Linked DNA regions of Homo sapiens: regions 2 and 3 are each linked to region 1. The links come from fine-mapping of genetic effects on gene expression. A gene starts in region 1. Each other region holds a variant in brackets. All regions are shown on one strand. Distances are between the middles of the regions.

Region 1 (8,177 bases):
AGTGGTGAGCTGGTGACACAGGGTGTGGGTGGTGTCCCTTGAGCTTCGACACCACGCCACACCTGAAACCAGCCTGACATCCATGATTTTGCTTTTTTGCTTAAACCAGTCTGCGTCATTTTCAACAAAAGAGTTCTACTAGATATGACAAATTTCTCTAGAAGACCTAAGAAGTGAAAGACTTGAAGCTATTCCAGTGGTTCAGGAACTAGGACACTGGTAGGAAACTGGAAAGAAGGCATCAGAGTTAAGGAAATATTTATGAGGTCAACTCTGGAAGTCTTGGTTACTGAGTGAATACAGTGGCTGAGAGGAATGGAAGCATCCAACCAAATAAAAAAAGATGGTGCTGAGATTTGGGTTATGAGGTCAATGACTGAAGCAATGCGATTAACTGAGTTAGGAGTCTCAAATATAGGATGAGTGCAGAGTTGAGGATGAAGAATTCTGCTTTGGACACAATGAGTGTGAGGTGCCCAAGGATAACCCAACGGGAAGCAGTCACACCAAAGCAACAGGGTGTGCACCTGAAACTCAGAAGGGTGATTGGGCTATGGTGAAGATTCCTGATCACCCATAAATGAATTCATTAAAAGCATGAGAGTGAGTGGAGGGGCCCCTAGAATATGGTGGGTGCATGAGACTAACCCTAGATTGGGGATAGCTCCCTGGGAAATCCAAGGGACAAGGTGAGGAGGAGGAGGCGGAGCCCACCAAGGAAACTAGAAAGAGACCGCTGGAGAGGTCCGAGGACAGCAAGGAGCACAGCCTTCAAGTCTGGGAGCCAACTATCCAAGAAGAGAGTGGTTTGCTATGGATGCCGTGGGCCACCACGTCCCATCTAGGAAAGCAAGTTGAGGTCTCTCTTGAATACATTGGGATTGATTACCCAGACTTTAAAGAATCTATGTCCCCTACTTCCCTTCATTCACTCTGCTCTTTACCTTCTCCTCTTCCCTGGTCACCAGCACCTCTGCTAAAGGGTGGAGAAAGGAACTTCTGATCAGTTACAGAAAAGCTTTGGGGTTACGTGGTGCAAGCTGCTCTGCCTCTGTTTGTGAAGAAATTAGACTATGGCCAGCCATGTGAGTGGCATCACTTTGGTTTCTGGAGCAATAGTTAGTAGCAACTTTTAGAGGTGGTCATTTCGGTTCCCTTCTGGAAAGTGATTCGTGTTTAAGAAAAATAGATGCAACGTTGCTAAGTACACCTAACATTTAAACAGTCTCCAGCAGATAAATGCTGATACTGACACTTCTCACCAGAAAAAGAGAAATACCCATCATGAGGAAGAGAAATGACTTTTGTTCAGTTATGCTCCCGGGTCCCCTTTCACTGGAGGGATATCTCAGCTTTCTGAGCCCCTGGTTACTGCAATCCTCGGTTCCAGAACCCAGCAATTCCTATCATCACAATTGTTTCAAGTCTTATCCAAGCCCTGTATATTTCAGATCATCCTTAATTTCTTGTTCTGTACCCAGAGGAGATCAGGAAAACCTTTAAGTCTCTATGTGAGGCAAATACATCCTCCTCACTGCCCCAGCCCCATGTGATTGATGAAGCAACTGAGGAAGAGAAGTAGGGTGCTTCTGGCACTGGAGGAGCGCAGTGCTGAGAAACTCCGGGCTCCATTCGGAAATAGCACTGATTTCTTAGTGTACTTTTTTTTGGTGTTAATATAGAAAACATCAAAAACACAGTTAAAAGAATGAAGCATGTCTACATACGTGTGGCCAGAAAGACTGACCAGAAGCTGGTAGCAGTGAGGGATGACAGTGCTTGCCCCTGGGTTGAATAGTGGAAGAGTTAGGGGGGAAACAGTCTGCTCTTTGAGACCCTTTCAATTTCATGTGATGGATTTACAGAGACAGATGAATTAAACATTATATAAAAAAGGAATAAAACCACTGGTAGGATCTGTATTCCAGGAAGAAAAAAGCATATTACATAATAGGTCAATGCACAGAAATAAAAAAAGGAATTTAACTAGAGCCTATGCTAATCATAAATCCCTTCCCTGTTCCAGAGTCCTGTTGTCTCTGGGGTCTTGGCCTGTCTTATCTAGGCCATGGAGTGGTGGGGGTGGGATGCTGCTAGTTCCTAGGCAGGAAATAGTGGCCAGTTACCCTTGTGGTGTCATTTCTGGGTCCTGGAAAGGAGACCACTGCTGACCCCTGACTCACCAACCAACAATTATTGATGGAAATCCCACCGGCCTCCCCGGACAAAGGCAGCCCAGACCTGGACTCATTCACATGTAAAGGAAGTGGCCAGAAGTGGCTGCTGTTGGCAGGGGTGAGGGACGGGAGAGCGCGCTAAGTGGCCTGTGTCTGTGGGGGAGGGAGAGGGTGGAGCAGCACAAGCCGGCCTGAGGTTAGGAGCCTGCGGTATCTCCAGGAAAGCAGAGGCGGCTGTGGGGGGCGCCGGGGCTGAAGAGCCAAGTGTGGAGACTGCTCCATCTTGCCCATCTCCAGAAACTCAGACCACCCATCCATTAAAGGCAGGTGGATGAGCAAGGGGGCCTCGCAGGCATTCCAGATCACACTGAACCTGTGCCCCACTGCCTGACCCATTCAGCATCCCTATTAACAGACACTCGCTGCCGTCTGGCCCGGACCCGGCTGGCGCTGCGGGTCCTTCCACCCCAGTTAGGAAGGGTCATGGCTCCCGCGGAAGCCCCTGCCAGGGTGAATAAACTCGGCGTGGGGCTGACGGGCTCTGAATTACTCCGTTGCTTACAAGCCGAGTGCCCCTCTGTGCCTCAGTTTCTCCCTCTATAAAACAATACGAATACCGGCCCAGAAGCGTTGTTGGGCAGATTAAACGAGAAAATCCACTGGAAGTGTTTAACAAACGACACACAATACGGGCTTCATACCTGCCAGCCGATGTCCCCTGCAGCCTTTATTCCCTACCCAATTCCCCTTAGCCTGCTATGTGGAGATACAGGAGGCTTGCACCCGCCGCGGTCCCGGTGTATTTTAACGGGCTCCCGGGGAAGCGGTGTGGAAAATGGATTAGGGAGGGAGGAGGCCAGAGCCTCGGAACCCGGGGAGAGGTCTGCAGGCATCCAGTTGGGAGCTGGAAGGGCGGGACAGGGCCCTTGGCAGGGGGATCCAGGAAATATTTTGGAGAAATTCTCTCTAGGACTTGGTAACAGGTTGAGAGCGGCCACTTGGCCGGGGGCGCCGGCTTCGGAGGCGGGAGGGAGGTGGAGGAAGGGAAGGCAGCTGCAGGGCCGACCTGCGGGGTGGGCGTGAGGCCGGGGGATTGGGGCCGCAGGGGTTCGGCCTGGAGGAGCGGCGTGGGGGCGCCGGGGCCCTGATTCCATCCTGGGCGGGTCGGCCCCGCAGCCGCTGCGCTCGGAACCCCCTAGGCGCCCCGCAGTACCCGGCGTCCTTCCTGCCTCCTCCTCGCCCCTGTCCTCCGTCCGAGCCCCAGTCCCGCCGACCCTGCCGGCGCCTCCGCCCTCCCGCCCTCCCGCCCTCGGTTTCCCACGACCTCGGCGCGACGCGCGCGGGATCCAGTGGAGACTGCTTTCCCATAGGCCGCCATCCAGGGCGGGGAAGGGAGCGGACCCTCCCGGCTCCAGGTGCCTGGGCCCCCGGCGGCCTGCGGAGGCCTCGCCCCACGCCACCCGCCCACTGGCCTCGTCTTCGCGCGGGGGTGAGAGCAAAGGAGGCACTCGGCCCATCGCCAGCCCGGGTCCCCTTCCTGCCCGTCGCTATCCGAGAATTTGCCCCGTGTCCCCCAGGCCGCGGGGGTCCGGAGAACCGAGGGGCGGACCCCGCAGAGGGCTGCGCCGCCCTCCCTTCTCTCCCCGCGGGAAGCAGCCCCCAGGACCGCCCCTCGCTCCCTGCCCGGGAGGGACTGGGCTTCCCCGAGGTGTGCGGCTCCTGGAGAACTCGCTTTCCCGTTTCCAGCCGGCCAAGCCATCAGTTAATCGCTTGCTTTCTCTTTTCTTTACAGAGAAAAGCAGCCTGATTCGGAGGAACGGGTTGCTTGGGGCGGCTCCCAGCTCGAGTTGTGGGCCCCGCCGCGGGTGCCCTTCGGAAACGCGCTGACACCAGGCGAAGCCGCCTCTGCCCGGACGCAGCCCGACACTTGGCCCGCGGGGTTCCCCGGGACGCCTGAGAGTAATGGGCGCGAGGGGGAAAGCCGAACGGCCTCCCTGTGCCCGGCGCAGGCGGTGCCCCCTAGCTGGGTTCGCCGCGGCGGCGCTGCGAGCCCCCGACACTGAGGACTTTTGGTCCAACAGTCCGACGGGGCCCGGTGCGCCGTTCCCTCCGCCCTCTCCCCGCTCCCCGGCCCGCGCGTCTTGGAGGGTGGGTGAATTGTCGGAAGCACTCTACGCCTGGCCAACCCAAACCAGGAACCTCCGCACCAAACAGCCCACGTTGCTGCTGCTCTGGGGTTTTAACGGCCAAGGGAGACTGGAGAAGGGGTGTTCTGCCTTCCCATTCTCTTAGGCCCGTCCACTCCCCATCCCCACAGTTTGGAAGTGGCCTTTTCTGAGGACTCCAGCGCAAAGCATGTTTCTCCTTTTGAGCTGCGGAAGCCTTGCTTGTTCCCGCCATTGGGAGGGCATTCCATCATCTGCAGCTGCCTTCCTCGGTGGGCCTTGTCCCTTAGCGTCCACCTAGGGGACATTCTAAGCTTCTTGAGACCTGCTTGTCCACCCCAACATGTCTCAGCATATGGCTGTGCCCTAAGGGGTCTTTGAGGGCATTTTAGGAGGTGAGCGGCGCCCCTACCTGGGCTCCGCGGGGCCGATTCGGTTTGCCCTTTGCTGGCATGTCAGTGAATTAACTGCTGTCCTTGGGATGACCTGCCCTATGATTTGGCCTCTGGAGCATCCCGGGTGTGTATTTCAGAACTCCTCCCATCTTATCCACCTGCTGAAGGCCTGGCCCCCTGATATGGTTTGGCTCTGTTTCCCCACCCAAATCTCACCTTGAATTTTAATAATCCCCACGTGTCATGGGCGGGACCAGGTGGAGGTAATTGAATCATGGAGGTGGTTTCCTGAACGCTGCTCTCGTGACAGTGAGTTCACAAGATTTTTTTTTTTAACGGAGTATCACTCTGTCACTCAGGCTGGAGTGCAGTGGCGCGATCTTGGTTCACTGCAACCTCTGCCTCCCGGGTTCAAGAGATTCTCCTGCCTCAGCCTCCCGAGTAGCTGGGATTACAGGTGCGCGCCATCACGCCCGGCTAATGTGTATTTTTAGTAGAGAAAGGGTTTCACCATGTTGGTTAGGCTGGTCTGGAACTCCTGACCTTGTGATCTGCCTGCCTCGGCCTCCCAAAGTGCTGGGATTACACGCGTGAGCCACTGTGCCCAGCCGATCTGATGCTTTTATAAAGGGCTTTCCCCGTCCCCCTTCCTCTCTCTCACCACCCTGTGAGAAAGGTGCCTTTCTTCCCCCTTCACGTGAACTGCCTCCATGATTGTAAGCTTCCTGAGGCCTCCCCAGCTATAAGGAACTGTGAGCCAATTAAACTGCTTTATAAATTAACCCAGGTATTTCTCGGGTATTTCTTCATAGCAGCGTGAGAATGGACTGATACACCCCCAATGTGGAGTAGGGGAAGCTGAGGGAGTTAGGAGGTCCCAGCAAGGTGAAGGTGTGATGGGGTCTTGGGACAGTGAGAGTGCTGCCTCAGGCAACAGTGGGCAGGTCATTGAGGCTCCATTGAGCTTGGTGAGCAGGAAGCTGAGAGAGGGAGCTGTCGATTCAGGAGTCAGGGGTGACATGGAAGGAACCTAGGGCTTTGCCAGGCACAGGTGAAGGAAGGCCACTTAGGTACTGGCAGTGGGAAGAGAGGGCAGGGAGTGGTGGACGGAGAGGAAGAGAAAGCTGAACACTGGAGCACAATGCGGGTGCTGGGAGGCAAGCAGAGGGGGCTGGGGGCTTCTCATATGGTGCATCCTGGCATTTATATTTTGAAAAATAATTGTTTTGTTCCCATTAGTGCTTTTATAATAGTTTTAGGAAAGAAGAGAAAATATGAATTAGCTATTATGAGGCTTCTTTTGAAGTTTCTTTCAGTTCAGAAACATATCCCACTTTACAAAAAAATTAAGAAAATTCAAAGTTAAAAAATGTAGGGAGGCCAATAATTTTAGTTGCCAGACATTTTAGTCTGACAAGACAACTCATTGGAGTTTCCTTAGAGACGTATTAGAAATTCAGAGCTGCACACGCATTTTTCCCCCTGCCAGATAAACTGAAACAACATAAAGTGAGTTTTAGTTATTTCTTTCAACGAGACTGCGAGGCCTATTTAGCTAACGAAAAAGATATCTGTAGAAAGAAGCATTCTTGATTCTTATCTACAAGACAGAGCAGCAAAAAACCAAGAATGTCAGATGAGTATTATCTCTGTCCATGGCAGAAAGGTATCATGTTGGTATAATTAAGATTGGTCTTAATGGAAACTTAGGCAATAAATATAAACATCATAGTTTAACCTGCAGCAAAGCAAATAAAATACATGAAATATAATAGAAAAACAATGCAGGCAAAGGCAGGCAGATTGCTTGAGTCCAGAAGTTCGAGACCAGACCTGGGCAACATGGCGAAACCCTGTCTCTAAAAAAAAAAAAAAAAATGCAAAAATTAGCCGGGCAGGGTGGTGCACATCTGTGGTCCCAGCTACTTGGGAGGCTGAGGTGGGAAGATCCCTTGATCCTGGGAGGTCGAGGCTGCAGTGAGCTATGATTGCGCCATTGCACTCCAACCTAGGTGACAGAGTGAGACTCTGTCTTACAAAAAAAGAAAAACAATGCTATGTGTGAATTTTTTTCCAATCTTTTAATAAGGAAAATGTTTTTTTCAAAATAATGGCTTATATGGAGTGTCAACATAAAAACAATATAATTTCAAATTGATAAGTAAAATATAGTCAGCAATCTCACATACATCAAAATTTGGTATATAACACACATTCTGGAGAGGTGTTGCTTTTGGTCTTACTTTTTTTCCATTTTTAAAATTGTAAAACACATACAAAATTTAGCATTTTAATGACTTTTAAGTGTACACTTCAGTGTCATTAAATTCACATTGCTGTGCAACCATCACGACCATCCATCTTCAGGCCACTTTGCATCCTGTGTAACAGAAACTCTACACCCATTAATAACTCCCCTTTCTCCCCTCCCTCCAGCGTCTAGCAACCACCATTCTACTTTGTCTCTATGAATCTGACTAATCTAGGTACTTTATATAAGTGGAATCATACAGTATTTGTCCTTCTGTGTCTGATTTATTTCACTTTGCATACCGTCCTCAAGATTCATCTATGTTGTAGCACGTGTCCGAATTTCCTTTCAAGGCTGAATAATATTCCTGTGTGTGTAATATTTTGCTTATTCATCGATAGGTACTTGGAATGCTTTCTTCGTGTTGTAGCCATTGTGAATAATGCCACTATGAACACAGATGTTCAAATATGCGTGGACATTTTTATAGGAATGTAACAACAACAAAAAGCACACAGTGGGCTCCATCATGAGCTCAGCTGCATACAGAGATGGGGGGCGCTGGAAGTCGTGGTGGGGCAACTGAAGCACCTCTCTGGAAATACTGTGTCCCAGGGGGACAGAAGGTCAGGCAGGTGGGTCCTGCCCAGGGACAAACCTGACAATCACTGGCACATCAGAATTCCTGTGAAACTGCAAAAACAAAAAGGGTGCCTGTGCTGAGCCCTAGACCCCCTGATTCAGTCTCTTGATGAGGACCCTGGACATGTGCATGCTTAAAAGCCTCTCCGGAGGTTCTGACTTGCTACCCTTGGGGCTGGGAACCACACAGCCTGGGACTTGGGAAGGAAGGGCGAATCTGTCTTTCCTCCTAGGGGCAGAGAGTAACTATCAGATGCACTGTTTTCCTAGAGAAACCCTGCAAGACCCTGAGGCAAAATAGCTCTCCTGGGGTGGCCCTTTAGCCAAGCAAAAGTGAGATGTTCTTCCCTCCTGCAACAAATACCAAGTGGAGCCAGCCGTACATGCCACAGTGTACAGGGGCTGTCACCAAGAGGAAAGTGGCTTATGAACCATCCCAGTAAGGCCTCCTAGAAGCACTGGGCAGAGGATGCTTTGCAATCTCTGGTGGAAGATGAAACCAGAAACAAGTCTGTATCCGTGATGATGGAATGAGCAGCAGGCAAGG
Region 2 (8,179 bases), 140 kb before region 1:
TTTTTTTTTTGAGACGGAGTCTTGCCCTGTCGTCCAGGCTGGAGTGCAATGGCATGATGTTGGCTCACTGCAACCTCTGCCTCCTGGGTTCAAGGGATTCTCCTGCCTCAGCCTCCCGAGTAGCTGAGATTACAGTTGTATGCCACCAAGTCCAGCTAATTTTTGTATTTTTAGTAGAGACAGGGTTTCACCATGTTGGTCAGGCTGGTCTTGAACTCCTGACCTTGTGATTCACCCGCCTCGGCCTTCCAAAGTGTTGGAATTACAGGCGTGAGCCATTGCGCCCGGCTTTCTTTCTGGCCTGTCTTCATCTGCTTTTCCCAAGAGTCTCCTGACTGCACAGAAGAGCAAAGAGATAAGAAATGTCTCTCCCACCCTCCAAAACACATGCCATGAGCCCTTTGCCATCTTTGCTTTGTTTTAAGCTTGTTACTGTTGGTAACTATAGGGAATGGACAGGGATTCACAGAAGTGATGAGCAGGGAGAGCATTTCAAGTTCCCAGGAAATCCATAAAGACTCTGCTCCGTGTTGCTGGTCTCCGTTGGTGTGCAATAAAGACTACATTTTTATGGGCGGTGTGGGGGTGTGGGGGCATGTATCTTCTCTGACTTCCTACTTAAGTGTTTCGCTGGACTTCTAACTCTTGTCTTAAAAACAGTGCTGCCCAGTTCTGTGTAGCTGGGAACTTGGAGTCAACAATGTATGCTTTAACTCAAGAACCATGAATAAAGCGTACTTTTAAAACTCCATTAGGAACAGCAAGACGAGAAAGGAAGAAATCATCTTTCGGGGAGCAGGTTGTGTAAGGATAATGTGAGATAGAGAAAGTAGAGTGCCTCGTCTCCCGTGCCGTGTTCGCTTCTCCACACAGGATGGGCCTTAGGTCGGAGGAGTGGAACAGAAGACGTGAGAAAACCCTGAGCAGGCGAGGCCACCATGACAGAAGCCACAGCAGGCATCTTGGCTGGACCTGCAGATGAAGTTGATTTAATTATTGCTTGTAATCATGGGGTCATAGAAAACAGACAGAAAGCTAGAAAAGGGCAAATGTCACGGGGTGTGTTTGTGTGTGTGAGAAAGAGAGAGAGAGAGAGAGGGACAGAGAGAGAGAGAGAGAGAGAGAGTGAGTGAGTCGCATGTTGCTGGCTCCCTCCACGAGACTCAGCCAGTCCGGCTGATGCTCCGGCCCTGATGCTATCAGAAGCTGCCCCACTGGAGAATGGGGGTGCACCTGCTCCTGGCTTCCTTCTTCCTCCTCCAGGGTTGCCTTGAGCTAAGCATGTCTGAATCACAACAGAGCATCGGAAGACAATTGAGCATCATAGCTCTTGAAGTCACATCACAAAAAGAACCATTGAAGGAACTAGTGACGCTTAGCTTTGAGAAGAGAGGACCCAGGGAGAAAGAAGCTGCCCTCTCATGCTCCTCCATGTGCCAGTCACTGGGCCATGCACTTTCTACAAATTATCTTGCTTACTTTTCCTAGCAAGCGCATAAAGGAGGGTGAGAGAGCTTCAGAACTCTCATGCTGGTCTTGGGGGTAGGAGGGAATGGTGCTGAAATCCAGCGTGTCTTGCCTTTGCCTCCGTCTGCTCATAGAGAGGAATAGTAGCCACACATAAATATTTGAAGGGCATTCACAGGGAAGGCGGTTTCACTTATCCTTGAAGCTTCAGGGAACAAAGTGAGAAACAAAGGTAGGGGTTTAGGAAGGTAGATGTGTGTTCCTTTACAGAAAATGAATGCTTCCAATAGAGCTGCTTGAAATTAGAGCTGGCCGAATGGGGGAGGAGACAGAATTGAGTTCCCTGCAATGGACTGAGTGTTTGTATCCTCCCAAAATTCATCTGTTGAAACCCTAATCCCAGTGTGATGGTATGAAAAGCTGGGGCCTTTGGGAGGTGATTAGGTCGTGAGGGTGGGGCCCTCATCCATGGGATTAGTGACCCTAGAAGAAGAGGCTAGGGAGCTCTCTGCCCTCATTCTGCCATGTGAGGATATAAGAAGACAGCCATGTGCAACCCAGAAGACAGCCCTCAGCAGAACCTGGCCACCCTAGCACTGACTTCTGGCCCAGACTGTGAAAAACAAGTGTCTGTTGTCTATGAGCCAACCAGTGTGTGGCACTTGTTACACCAAGCCAAGCTGGCGGGGATGCGCCCTGTCTTTTCAGGGGGTATTTTCCCAAGCTGCTGAGGACCAGCGCACAGAGACCAGGGAAGGTCAAGCGTTCTAGGCCCTATTGATTGATTGCCAAAGACTGCCTGCTCCAGGCTGCCCAGCCCTGAGCTTGCTGTGGTCTCTTCACCCCTGAAGAGCCACACGGCAACCCCTTGAATCCTCCTGCTCCTGAGCCCTGGCTCTGTGGCTGGGGAAGGAGTATCTTCCAGTGGTTCCAGTGATTTTGTTTCTGGTCACTGCTCCCTGTACTGGGTAGTCCCTTCCACCCCATCAGAGAGGCTGCCCCTAACCACCCACCAACCACCCCACTAAGCAGCAGCCCACTCCAGCCCCCCAGCGTCTGCACAGCATCCACCACCACCTGAAATGAAATCTTTTCCTTCCTTTCTCTGTTACTGTGTGGATCCCCACACTAGGATGTGAGCCCAGTGAGGGAGGGGCCACATGTGCTTGGCTCACTGCCCTATCCCAGGCACCTAGAACGGGGCCTGGCACACAGTTAGCTCTCGAGAAGGAGGTCGTGGCTTCACGTTGTCCTGCACTGACCTCCCAGCTGTCTGGTTGGCCCCTCCTAGATGTCTGCTAGACATGAGCCTGTCTTCCCCCACCACACCTGGACCTTTCTGCCCCTTTCTGTGTGCCTGAGGCCTGTTCCCTGGCCAGTTGTTCAAGCTGATTCTATGCTTGGCTAAACCAGCCTTTTCTCTTTTTCTTTTTTTCCTCTTCTTTTCTTTTCGATTATTTTCCCTCCCTCCCTCCCCTCCCCTCCTTCCTTCCTTCCTTCCCCTTCCTTCCTTCTTCTCTCCCTTCCCTCCCCCTCCCTTCCTCCTTCTCTCCCCCTCCCTCCCTCCCGCCCTCCTTTCTTTTTCTTTCTTTCCTTCCTTTCTTCCTTCCTTTCTTTTCCTCCCTCCCTCCCTCTCTCTCTCCTTCCTTCCTTGCTTCCTTCCTTTCCCCCTCTCTCCCTTCTTTCTTTTCTTCCTTGCTTTATTTCCCCCTCTTTCTTGCTCTCTTTTGCCTTTCATTTTTTCTCCCCCTCCCTCCCTTCCTCCCTCTCTCCCTCCCTGCCTCTCTTTAGTAAGGTCTCCCTAGTGGCCAGAGGCCCTGGAGGGTGGCCATTCCCACCTGAGAAGACTGCCTGCTTGCCCCCTCTTCCTGCTGTATCCTGCTTTCCCATTGTCTGGACTGTCTCAGCAAGCTCCTGTGCCTTCTGGGAGCCCTGAGCTCCACAGACAGAAGCCATCCAGTGGCTGGTGATGAGGAACCCACATCCAGGAGTGCTTGCCCGTCCCTCGGCAGGAGTCTGCACCACACTGCCATGAGCCCTACTGTGTTTTCCTGGGAGAGTTCTCTACCAAAAACACATGGGAAACTTTTATTTTGGAGCCCGCTGGTTGACTTATTGGCGAGAAGCACTTCACCTGCTAATGTGAACAAAAGAACGAGGACAAGGTTAAGGAGAGGCTTGATGATGTATCAAGAGATTATTGCTGGAATGATCATATTTTTGCAAAAGCAAATCAACATATTTAGCATTTAAAGCCTTGAACATGCTGTGAAAGTCAGGTTTCGTTCCCAAGGGAAGAAAAGAGCTGTTCCCTCTCTGTTCCTAGTGACGTTAGGGTGACCCCAACCTCATATAACCTCGTGGTGATGAGCTAGAGTTCAACGTGGCTTAAACCTTCAATCTGTAATACACAGTGGGCCCACAGAGTTCCCATGGCACGTGTCCTAATATCTGTGCTTGCCTCCCCAGAGTGGGTCTTGTCTGAAAAGCCACATTTATTAAAGTGATTTCTATCAACAATTTAATAATTAGAGAAGTTGTTCTAAGCTGAAGAGGAAATGGTTCACTGCAGCCAATAAATGTTTTC[G/A]CAATTTAGTCACTACATGTCTGAGCTTATTTTTTTTTCCAGAGGAAACCACAAAAAATACCTACTACAATTGTGTTGAAGGTTCTTGGGGCAGATGTTACGAGTGGTGGTAGAGCTGTGGTTGAACCACCTCCAAGACCAGTGGTAGGTCACCAGGACTTCTTGCCTTAGAGACATTTAGTTTTCTTCAAACTCGATCTTAAAACATTTTGCCAGGGTGAAATGAACTTGAATCGCTCCTGATCTATTGATTTAATTTTTTCCCCTGCTACTTGGGAGTGTGTATGTTCTGGGTTGAGGTGAGTATGTGGGGTGAGTATGTGGGGTCTATTGTAATTTATAGGTTTTCATGAAAACTAAGATACATTTCAGGAAGCCATTCCAGCATGCGATTTGCTAAAACAAAGGGGTCAACAGAGACGCATCCTCTGAGAGTGGTTGGTTAGCGACGCCATTCAGCCAACTTCAAACATTGATTGAATACCCTTTGTATACCAGAACACTGCTAAGTGTTAGACCGCTCACAAGAGGTGGATAGATTCTGGACAGAGAAAGCCAGGTGAGCTCTTTCCTGAACTAGCAAACTCTGGGAACAAGACCCCAGCTGTGGTGGTAACTAAAGACTAGGTTACCAGTTCTGGAAATTCTTTGAAATGCATCGGTGGGGATATCCCTGGCTGGTAGCATCTCCAGCTCATTGAAAAGCTGTATCTTCTCCCTCCCTTCGCTTCAACCTCAAATCTGTCAGCACTGCTCTATCTATGTATGCAATTTAAGCCCAGCACAAAGAACTCACCAGAGGGCGCGGGACCAGAATTCGGCCTGCTCTGCTCACCAGCGGTTTGCTCTGGGAGGCCTGTGCCTGTCCACAGGGGCACGTTTCTCATCCTCATGGAGGTACTGCTTGGTTTAGTGAGGGCTGGGGATTTGATCCACTGACAGTCCCTGGACAAAGAGACAAAGGAGCCAATGGCATCCCATCCATGTGTTACCTGAGGCGGAAGAAATTCTTGGGTTTTCTCAAAAGCTATATTGGGAACACACACTGTGCATACGTGTACACACACACACACCACACACACACCACACACACACACACCACACACACACCACACACATACACCACACACACCACACACATACACACACCACACACACACCAACACACCACACACACACCACATACCACACACACACCACACACATACACCACACACACCACACACATACACCACACACATACACACACCACACACACACCAACACACCACACACCACATACACACAGCACACACACACCACACACACACACCACACACCACACATACCACACACACACCACACATACCACACACACACCACATACAGCACACACCACACACACAACACACACACCACACACACCACACACCACACATAACACTACACACACCACACACACACCACATACACACCACACCACACACACCCACCGCACACCACACACACACACCACACACACACCACACCACACACACTGCGCACACACCCCCCCCCACACACACACACACACACTTTCCCCCATGACTTTTGGCTCTATTTTATTTGGAGAAGCAGCAGCATTTTGATTTTGAAGGAGACTATGTTAAAGGCCACGATGTTTCCTGTTTTCTGATAGGAATGGCAGGGATCAGCGCTGTGTGCAGGCGCTGCTGCAGTCTGCAAGCGAGCGCTACTCTCCTCGCCTTGCGGTTTCAGTACACGGGGCCACCTCCCCACTCACGCTGTCCAAGCTACTCCTTAGACAAGAGCTGCATTTATGAACAGATAGGGGTTTGAGACCATAGGGCTGAGCTCCCCATCTGGCAATTACTGATGACACCCCGGGCCGTCTCTCAGAGGTGGGCACACCTGGACCCATGAATCAAAGTCTGGACTTGCAGAAAAGTTAAAGGAAATAGCTGCTGTATTAGTGGGGCTGATCACAAGCATCTGGGGAAAGGAGAGAACAACATGGCGTTATTGAAACTTCCACCTATTTCCTTGATAAATATAAACACTGCACCAAACATTGCAAATGAAAAGAGAAACAGGGTCTTCCTATGGGACATGACCCACGCACCCAGGACAAAAGTAAGGCTGGCCGTTCTGTTTCAGCACAATAACGTGTGTTAATTCAGGATTGATGCCTGGCTGCCCCCAGTCTGGCAGTGGTGTTTGCCTCCTGCCTTTGTTAGGAGAAGCGAAATAAGCTAAGGCTCCTGGAGCCAGCCCTTTCCTGCTCCTCTGCCCCACCCCCCAGACACGCACGCACAGAGCTCTCTTAGCATCAGAGGCCCAGAGGAAGGCTAGGGTCATCAACACCTGTCATTTCCAGGGCCAAAAATGTCATCAGGCGCTGCCTAGCTGGGCTGTCAACAATGGCGTGATTTGGCCAATTCTGGAAGAGGAAATGGACTATTCATGAGCAGTGCTTTCAGTGATGGGTAGGTGCACTGTGTACGTTGGTGTGTGCATACACATCTGTGCACATGCATATGCACATACATGCACCTGCGCACCCAGCCCACACTCCCTGCCGCCTCAAAAACCTCTTGTGGGTTGCATTTTCTCCAGTAACAGAAGTGATGACTCTGATGGGAAATGCACAATTAAGCTCTAAAGTGATTTCCCTAGAAATCAGTAAAAGGGTTTACTGGAACTTAAGAAAAAAAAAAGATGAAAAGTCTGTTTTTCCTTAAGGATTTGCTCCAAAGAAAGCAGCTCTCACCATATGTTCTCCCAGAGGGAGGAAGGAGGGGACAGAATGTACAAGCTGAATGCTGACTAAATGTTGCTGGCCTGGATTCTGGGGGTGGCTAGTCACCCCATCCTGGAAAGGCTGGCAGAACCGTCAAGTTGAAGGCAGTTTAGGAAAGTCCTGGGCAGACTCGGGGCCTCATGGATGTGGAGCAGCCTGTAGCTTAATCTATGTTCAATAAATGCAATGTTTTTCTCAAGGCAGGTGAGGAGGGGCTCAGGCTGTAATAAGTGTTTTAGTATTCTGGAGCAGAGTTTTATACATTTTTAAAGGAAGTCAGCCTCAGAACGCTGATCTCAACATTGTGACTAGCCTGTTACCCTGGGACTGACCCTGAGTAGAGAGACTGAAATCACAGAATTAGGACTCAAAGTAACGATTAGAGTTCCTTGGTTCTACCCTTGTCCTCCAGGTAGTATCATCACTAGCCTGGTTTGACAGAGACCTACCTGTCCTTCTCTCAAAGTTCTCCAGAGAATAAAATTTTATAGGCTACATTGGTAATGAGTGGGAAGGTTGGAAAGTTGTGGGGGTAGGAAAAGAAACAGAATAAATAAGTCAAATATACAGTATGTTAGATGGTGAAAAGTGCTATTATGAGTAACACTAATCTATAACTTGCATTTGTTTTTATTTTGGATCAGGGTCTCACTGTGTTGCCCAGGCTGGAGCACAGTGGCACAACTATAGCTCACTCCAGCCCTGGACTCTTGGGCTCAAGGATCCTCCTGCCTCAGCCTCCAGAGTAGCTAGGACTACAGGCATGTACCACCATGCCTGGCTAATTTTTTATTCTTAAATTTTTGTAAAGATGGGGCCTCTCTATGTTCCCCAGGTTTGTCTTGAACTTCTGGGCTCTCAAGGAATCCTCCTGCCTTGCTTGGCCCCCTAAAGTGCTGTGATCTTAGGGGTGAGCCATTGAGCCTGTCCATAACTTGCACTTGAATGAGGTTTCAGAATTTTCTTTTTCTTAGCCGGGCGCGGTGGCTCAAGCCTGTAATCCCAGCACTTTGGGAGGCCGAGGCGGTCGGATCACGAGGTCAGGAGATTGAGACCATCCTGGCTAACACGGTGAAACCCCGTCACTACTAAAAATACAAAAAAAAATTAGCCAGGCACGGTGGCAGGCGCCTGTAGTCCCAGCTATTCGGGAGGCTGAGGCAGGAGAATGGCGTGAACCCGGGAGGCGGAGCTTGCAGTGAGCCGAGATCGTGCCACTGCACTCTAGCCTGGGTGACAGAGCGAGACTCCGTCTCAAAAAAAAAATTTTTTTCTTTTGCTTTTCTTTCTTTCTTTCTTTCTTTCTTTCTTTCTTTCTTTCTTTCTTTCTTTCTTTTTTTTTTTGA
Region 3 (8,179 bases), 49 kb before region 1:
TACTGCTTGGTCAGGACAGTCTAGGTAATGCTTTAGTAACAGATAAATCCTGCACATCTGTGGTTAAACAGCCAAGGTTTGCTTTTTGCTCCCTTGCACGTCAGCCTCCCAGTTACTCAGAGGCCCAGCTGAGGGCATGCCAACTTGAGATATGTTATCACCATTGAAAAAGCAGGACAAGAACTGGCAGTTCTGGTTTTCAAAGCACGCACTGGTCCTCAAAGCTTCCTCCAGGAAATGGTGCACGTCTTTCCCACTCACATTTCACTGCAAGAACAAATCACATGTGCGATGATTTCAAAGGCGTGGAGAAGGTCAAGCCTATCAAGTTCTGGAAGATATGGGAAAAGAAACTTTGTCAACAGCACCACGGCTGACACAGGGAAGAATGGCGAATGCATAGCCGCAGAGGAGCTGCTGTGGCGACCTGGTGCTTGTAGAGAGCTCGCCCTAAAAAGGATGCTCTGCCCTCATGACCCTGGGACAGTTTCTAGCCCTCTCGTCTCAATAAGATATATTTCAAATTCTCAAGCTTAACACTCTACAGTTTTCAACGTAAAATTAATCTTCATTGCACAAATGTTAAAATCTGCCTAAAGAAGCTGTCCTCGGTGAAGGAGGCCTGTATTGTGTTCTGGGGCGAGTCATCTGTGCTGAATGAAGGGCTGTGTGACAACAGAATATTCTTCAGGAGGTAGAGGCGTCAGATTGAGAGGCTGCCACAGTTTAGTGAAGACTTGCCACGGGGACCCCTAAAGAGAGGCACCGTTGCTTTGCGTTCTGTGGGGGCAGTCCCACAGTCAGGGCGCGGCAGAGCTGTGGGGGCCAGCAGCCCCCAGCATGGGCAGAGAGAGTGCCCAGGGAGTGGGCTGGGGGCTGATCAGATGTCTGCCTCTCTCAGGCTCTCTGTTTTGGTGGTAAGGCAATTGGGACAGTGATCTGTCCCCTGTCTGATAATCTGCACCAAAATTTAGGAAGTAACACGTCCTTCAGGGATTAAAATATAAGATTGAAACACAGTGGTGTGGAGCAGTCATATGCAATGCGTGCTTGAAGGAGACGGGTGACCCTCAAGCCACCAAGGCCTGTATGTCCCTTAGTCATCTATCAAAAGCTTACTGGGCACCTCCTATGGACCAAGGATGTTGTGGACACTTGAGGTGTAGTGATGGGCAAGATAGACATGCTGGATGCTCTGATGTGCCCCCCAGGTCACCCTGAAGGAAGGACACTGCTGAGGACGTTGCTAGCAGGGAGTCCTCAGCTGTCAGCCTTTTTGCGGACTGCCTGAGCCACAGGGAGCTGCTTCCCTCAAGATCACAGCGCATTTAGAGAGCAGCCCAGCACCAGTGAAGGACCAATGAGGAGCACAAAGCCCAGCGGTGTGTGTGCTGACCTGGGACAAGGCCGCAGGGATAGCCCACCCTCAGAACTCCCTGCAGGGATAGCCCACCCTCAGAACTCCCTGCAGGGATAGCCCACCTTCAGAACTCTCTGCAGGGCTGGCTGATGTTTCTGGTGAGCTGGCTGTGATGTGCTTTCCCTCCTGCCCAGTCCTATTCCCTTCCCTTCTCTTCCCTTCCCAAGATGGGGTTCCTGAGAGTACACCCTGGTAAATCTCCATCCTTGTCTCCGACAGTCTGCTTCCTTGGGAGTCCAACCTGTCCCAGACACAGCCTGTCCTCATGGAGCCTACACACTAACGAGGAAGGCAAGTATCAAACAAGTAAAGAAACAAGCAAATGTCAGATGGCCATAAGTGTTATCAGGAAAATAAAACGGTGTAACAGGATGGTTACAGAAAAGGCAACACTGGGTGGAGCCGTCTGGGAGGGTTTGGTGGAGACATGATATTGAGCAGAAACCCGATTAATGGAAATCTAGAGGACAACATTCCAGAGAGAAGAACAAACATAAGGGCCCCAAGACTGAAAGAGGTCTGATACATGTGAGAAAGGAAGAGAAGTGCCTTATGACTAGGGTGATGTGCACAAGGGGAGGTCACCATGGGCTTAGTGAGGTCGGTGGGGGCAGGCCATTTTGGATTTTATTTAAGGGCAATGGGAGAAAGGGGGATCCCAGTCCATACAGGGGCTTTCTGTGATTTAGAAAAAGGAATCCCTCTCTTAAGTAAAAAAAATAATCACATGAATGACTAGTTCAGTGCATGACTTGAACAACCATTCACAGTGTCCCTGCAGGGGATAGTGGGAACTGCAAAAGGCTGAGCACTCAGCAGAGAATGTAAGCAGGAGAGGGGAGGGGAGTGAGGAGATAGAAGAGTGTCAGCTCTGGGGTTCAATCAGCAGTGTCCAGCCTAGTTTGCCGAAACAATCATTCCATAATCCAAACTGCTGTTTAAATCGATGGCCAGACACATGCATCCTATTAGGAATTAGGCAAAGCTGCTGCTGGGAGGAGGCACTCCTTGACTCAGCCTGGCTTTCTCAGCCTGGTCACTGGTCACCCCTCAGCATGGGGTGCACATGCATCAACAGTGTGCCTCTGCCTCCCACAGACCCTCCAACCTGTACATGCCCCAAGTTGTCTAGCACAGCTGAGAGGCCTGTGTTTCTTTGGATGGTTAGCTCCATATCTCTAAATAATAAGCTCCATGTCTTATATTAGATAGAAATTATGTTCAGCTGCCAGCACAGAGAGCCAGCAAAAGTTGCTTAAACAAGATAAAGATTTGTTTCTCTCTCACATAAGAGAATCCATACGTGAGGAGCAGAAAGATGGAAGGAAATTGGACCCAAATGATTATGGATCCGCCGTAGCAACCCTGAAGTCCCCACATCTGGCAAGAAAGAGGCAGGAGAAAGGAAAAGGGGGATATCTCAAGTGTTTTTTGACCTTTTAGGGAGCATGTTCATAAGTCCTACCAACAACTTTGGTGCAGACTTTGTTGGCCCTAACTTAGTTACCTATGTCCTTGCCACCTCTGTCCTGATACAGATATATCACTATTGTCGTTAAATTAAGAATCAAAATTTCTATATATATATGTATTTTTGAGATGGAGTCCCACTCTGTCATGATCTCAGCTCACCGCAACCTCCACCTCCTGGGTTCAAGTGATTCTCCTGCCTCAGCCTCCCAAGTAGCTGGGATTACAGGCACCTGCCACTGCATGCAGCTAATTTTTTGTATTTTTAGTAGAGATACGGTTTCACCATGTTGGCCAGGTTGGTCTTGAACTCCTGACCTCGTGATTTGCCTGCCTTGGCCTCCCAAAGCTGGGATTACAGGCATGAGCCACCGTGCCTGGCCCTCAAAATTTCTATTTTTATGACTATGTGGGTATTGTTTACGCTAGCTCCATGAAATAAATCATTTCTTTTCTTATAAAGTTTGTTTTTCCTAGAGTTGTGAATAGGCTTTGTTTTTGTACTATCTGCCATCATCACAGCTTCAGCCTCTCTGCCCTCCTGTCTCTGCAGTCTCCATCATATCAGGTATTCTCCCTTTCTTCCTCACAAAGGCCTCCTCGCCTATGGCTGATATCAGGGTCCGCAGCACAGCTGTTATTCCTGGACTTGCTGTTACCACTCTCATGGGTTGTAGGCACTATTTCCTGGGTTCCATGTCTTTTTCCTTCATTTACTGGAATTTCTTTTTGCTGGAACTTTCCTGCTTGATTACTCCTAGAACAACAACCCAAGAGGTGCTGGTCCAGGCTCCAGACATACAGAGAAGAATGAAGCATAATCCCTGCCCTGAAGGGTTTCACAGCCTGTTGATCAGGAAGACATGTGGAAAGATACATAATAACACGTAAGTGCGCTTACATGCTCTGTGAGCAGGACAA[G/T]GACATCTATTCGTGGGATCAGGCAAGGCTTCAGAGTAGAGGTGACACCAGGTTTTGAAAGAAGACTGAGTATTTGTTCAGTGGAGAAGTAGAGGAAGGCAATTCCAGGGAGAGGTCACCACATGGGCAAATGCACCAAGGCATGGCAGACAGAGCCAGCTAGCAGAATGGTGAGTTCAGTGATGTGGAAGCATAGAATACGTCGCGTAGGTCAGGGCTCAAGCATACAGAACCGAGCATGCTTCCTAAGTTGCACACAACCCATTTGTAAACTGCTGAGCATGTCTTATTTGCAAGTTGTGGATGACATAAGCAGATCTGTAGAGGCGGACAGGGCATTTAAAAACCCATACATTTCTGCCCAGAAAATCAGGTCTCTTCAATTCTGATTGCCAGCCTTTCAGTCCCAATTCAGACAGGAAGCTGAAGGGTTTCCATCAGACCTACACAGCACTCAACAAGAAATCGCTTGAGTTTTCTCAAGAGATAAAGACTTTTTATTACAATGTAACGAAGTATAATTGGCTTAGTTAACCTAGTATGCAAAATCTTGGGTGTTCTCGTAGTGCTGTGAAATGTTATGATTCAAAAGAATTTCGGCTCTCTCTAGCACTGCAAACCTCCCCTGCCTTAAAGTGCTAAAATGTTTCTTACTTAGACTCACACTTTGCTTTTCCTTCAAAACACAGAGCTTGCCCAAGTCATGGAGGGTAAAGACTTCCCTACCCCTTTCCCACCTTTTTGGATTATTGGTTTTTTTCTATATTCGTCACATTTCTAAGTGCTTCAAAGGGGACTGGGGCAGACATAACCTCACCTCATAGACTCCTTCTGGCTCCACATCACAAGTCTCCTGGGTATTTTTACATTATTATTGGTTGAAACATATTTAAAATATCTTTCCTCCATAAATGTGTGTGTGTGTACAGCTTCCCTGTCTCCCTGAAATGCCCATTTATAGGTAGGAAGTAGCCAGTTGGACAACTCTTTTATGGAGAGGCTCATACCTCAGAAAAACTACTGTCACACCCCTTCATATCAGAACCCAGTAAAAGGTTCTTTATTCTCACTGTCTTTTCAAATTGTTTTTGCCATTATAGATCAAGGTGTTTCAGTGATTTTGTCAGGATAGCTCTTTAGAAAAAAAGGAATCAGGGAGGAAACAGCCAGTTAAATGGGTTGAAGGAACCGTGGGAAGGTGTGTATGTGAGTGGGGAGGGGAGAGGGGGCTTAACACTAATAATATTTTGAAATGTACCTCTAAACTTGAAACCTAGTTGATAAATGTTGTTATGGAAATTCAAAAGTATTGGGTTTCATTTATTTGTTTCTAGCAAATATCGCAGGAGCACTGGTCAGATGCTGGGTGGTTGCCAGACAAGCGAGCCAGAGGAACACGAAGGCCCTGCCATCGAGGAGCGTGCCAGATCTCAGGGCCCCTAGACCAGGAGTCCTTCAGGGGGGCCTGCCACACTCCTCATGTTTCAAAATGAATTTCCATGCTTAACATTACACCGTCTGTCAAGTTCAAAGAGGCTTCGTGTTTTGTTTGAAACCGGGTCTCGTTGTGTCGCCCAGGTTGGAGTGCAGTGGCACGACCTCAGCTCATTGCAGCCTTGACCTCCTGGGCTCAAGGGATCCTCCCACCTCAGCCCCCCAAGTAGCTGGGACTACAGGTATGTCCCACCACACCTGGCTAATTTTTGTATTTTTTGTAGAGATGGGGTTTTGCCATGTTGCCCAGGCAGATTGGTCTTGCACTCCTGAGCTCAAGCAATCCTCCTGCCTCAGCCTCCCAAAGTGTTGTGATTACAGGTGTGAGCCACTGTGCCTGGCTGCAGAAGATTTTTTTTGATTAAGCCCATCTCACTATGATTTTTCTTTCTATAAAACCCCCAGCATTCCCACTAAAGACCCTTGTTGCTTCTGGAAAGGAGTATTAAAGTATCAGTCTTCCTTTCCAAAATTCGAACCCAAGCCCATGTCCTTCTGGAATCATTTCTAGATGTGTGTGTGTACAGATATACATATATATATATATATATATATATGTATATAAGTATTTACATATTGTGTGTATATATTGAAATTTATATATTTACTCACATTCATGCATGTATACATATATATTGTACACACATATGTGTATCTATGTATATGTATTTAAATTTGTTTGTGCCTCATTTTTTCTTCGTACTAGAAAAATGCAATATTGACAAAATCAAACATAAATTGGTTTGTGGTTCTAGATGTCACAGCAGTGATTGCAGGCATTTCGTAATGGTCACTGGGTCATCTCTCTAAGCCTGCCACCGTTTGGAAGTGAGTAATATTATACAGTTCCAGTTACAAAGCCACCGCACTTGACTAAATCCTCATGTGGCAGAGAGAAGCCCTCTGCCAGGGGGAGAAGCCCAGTCCCGTGATCAAATCCCTACTGGGCTGATCAGCTATTGGCAAGTTCCTGGGCATGCTGGCTGGGGTGCTGGGGGTGTCCTCCAGGACAAGTTCTCAACTTCAGCGGCACATCGGAGTCACGGAGAGCTTCCAAAAACCCTCCTGTTGGGGTCCTTCCTTTATGGAGTCCCCTCTGATGGGCATGGGTGGAGCCTGGCTCAGGGATTTTGAAATGTGACGCCTATGTTGAGCCCAAATCGGGAACCCTGGCAGCAGGGGTCATTGGTATTTGAGGACACAAAGTAAGAAGGCAGCCTGTCTTTTCTTTTCCCAGAGGTGGAAGGTGGTGGGAAGGAGCAGGAGGGGCATGTGCGGTGCCCCTGGAGGCCACCTGCCTGGGCTTGCTTGGGGCCAGCAGCCTTGGAGGCTGTGTGGAGGCCGCTGCCGCACATCTGGCCCTCAGCACTGCACAGACTGTGGAAACCCTGTAAGATAAGCTCCCAGGAATGAAAAGAAGGCGGTCTAAACTTTCTGGGTCCCAGAGCCAAAGCAGGAGGTCCCAAAACCGCAGGGTGGGGGCGGGATCATTTGCGGACACCAAAAGCCAAAGGCCAAGAGGACTCTGTTTTAGCAGATTAATTTATAAGAAAAATATCAGAAGCAAAGGCACACATGGGAATATTGTTATTGGAAAGAACATTTTGCAAAGGAATTTTTATAAATGGAAACTGCTTCAAGTTCAAGCCATATTTAAAAACACAACCACATGGGTGGCAGGAAGGAGGGCACCGGCTGTGTTCAAATATTTTCCTAAAGGGACACCCAGCCCCCCTCAGCTGTCCCCAAAGGGGGCATGGGGGTCTGTGGGTCCTGCTTACTTTGGGAGCCCTGGACTTGGCCCTCGGAGGCCTTGGTGGCCCGGTGAGGATAGTAAAACATGGGAGGTGTTCTGGGAGCGCCTTCTCCAGAGATAAAGGCTGTTCTTCACCAAGATGATTCCAGGAAAGTTCATTTTGGAAATGGAGAAGAGAAATGGAGACAAAGTATGTACGAGTCGCACCTGAGTGCAGAGTTAGGTCTATGGCATTTGCCCAAAGAATCACTCAGGAAATCTTCCTTCCCTTCCTTTGACCCACAGCAGAATAAAGGAGATTAATTTTGGGTGGACGGTTGGTGGCAGAAGTTGAGGGAATTTTGGAAAATTGAAGAAAATAACTATTTGAATAGACCAGAAGTGAAGGTTTCCTGTGGTGTGCAGCCCAAAATCTAGTTCAGGCCATCTCCTGTGACATTTTTTTAAATTGCTGTGTTTGACACAACCTTAGGCCTGAGAAAACTTTACTTTCCTAGAAAAGCACATTTACATGTGAAACCCGGCATATGCCCCAGCACTCAATTGCAGGGAGTCGGCCCCCATTCCTCATGGCATCTGCAGAGCAGTGGCTGGCATGGGGCAGTCCCCCCAAGTGCATCCGTGCATAAAAGAGGTCCGGGAACACCTCCCCTGTGAAAGCCCGGGGAGCAGTTCTGAGGTAGACAAAAGACCCTTAATATACATTTTCCCCCAAATTAATCATTTCGGTTCCAGGAAACAAGAAAAGACTTTTCTGGACTTCTATATATTGCATCATAGCATATCAATGTAATCAGTAGAATCAACTCTGTTCCTCTTATTACTAACAATTAACACATTGTGAGCACACGCTATGGACTCAAGCATTCTTTGAGAAGACTTCATTCGCATATTATTTTAAGTCTGTTTTCTATTGCTTGTAGTAGAATACCTGAAACTGGGTAATTTATAAAGAAAAGGAATTTACTTCTTACATTTCTGGAGGCTGGGAAGTCCAAGTCTAGGGGGTGCATCTGGTGAGGGCCCTCTTGCTGGCAGGGACTCTGCAGGGCCCCAGGGTGGTGCAAGGCATCCCATGATGAGGGGGCTGAGAGCACCAGCTCAGGTCTCTCTTCCTC

Evidence for each region.
Region 2: its variant is fine-mapped to the expression of LINC00092 in coronary artery (GTEx, PIP 0.96).
Region 3: its variant is fine-mapped to the expression of LINC00092 in thyroid (GTEx, PIP above 0.99).

What each region holds. Positions count from the first base shown.
Region 1 is chr9:96,017,074-96,025,250 of GRCh38, reverse strand. LINC00092 (long intergenic non-protein coding RNA 92) reads left to right here and starts at 3,440. Exons shown (of 2, transcript NR_024129.2): 1 at 3,440-3,666; 2 at 3,970-5,519. It overlaps ERCC6L2 (ERCC excision repair 6 like 2), which reads right to left. Exons shown (of 19, transcript NM_020207.7): 19 at 6,804-8,177. LOC105376159 (a long non-coding RNA gene) reads left to right here. Exons shown (of 2, transcript NR_188619.1): 2 at 1-1,991. RefSeq lists enhancers at 2,018-2,518, 3,951-4,000 and a silencer at 4,211-4,260.
Region 2 is chr9:96,155,033-96,163,211 of GRCh38, reverse strand. No RefSeq gene overlaps it. Among named protein-coding and RNA genes, the nearest start is that of HSD17B3-AS1, 87 kb to the left of the region's middle. RefSeq lists a silencer at 3,282-3,494. The variant G/A (reference allele first, on the strand shown) is at 4,055.
Region 3 is chr9:96,065,725-96,073,903 of GRCh38, reverse strand. LOC158435 (a long non-coding RNA gene) reads right to left here and starts at 8,065. Exons shown (of 9, transcript NR_033838.1): 1 at 8,036-8,065. The variant G/T (reference allele first, on the strand shown) is at 3,812.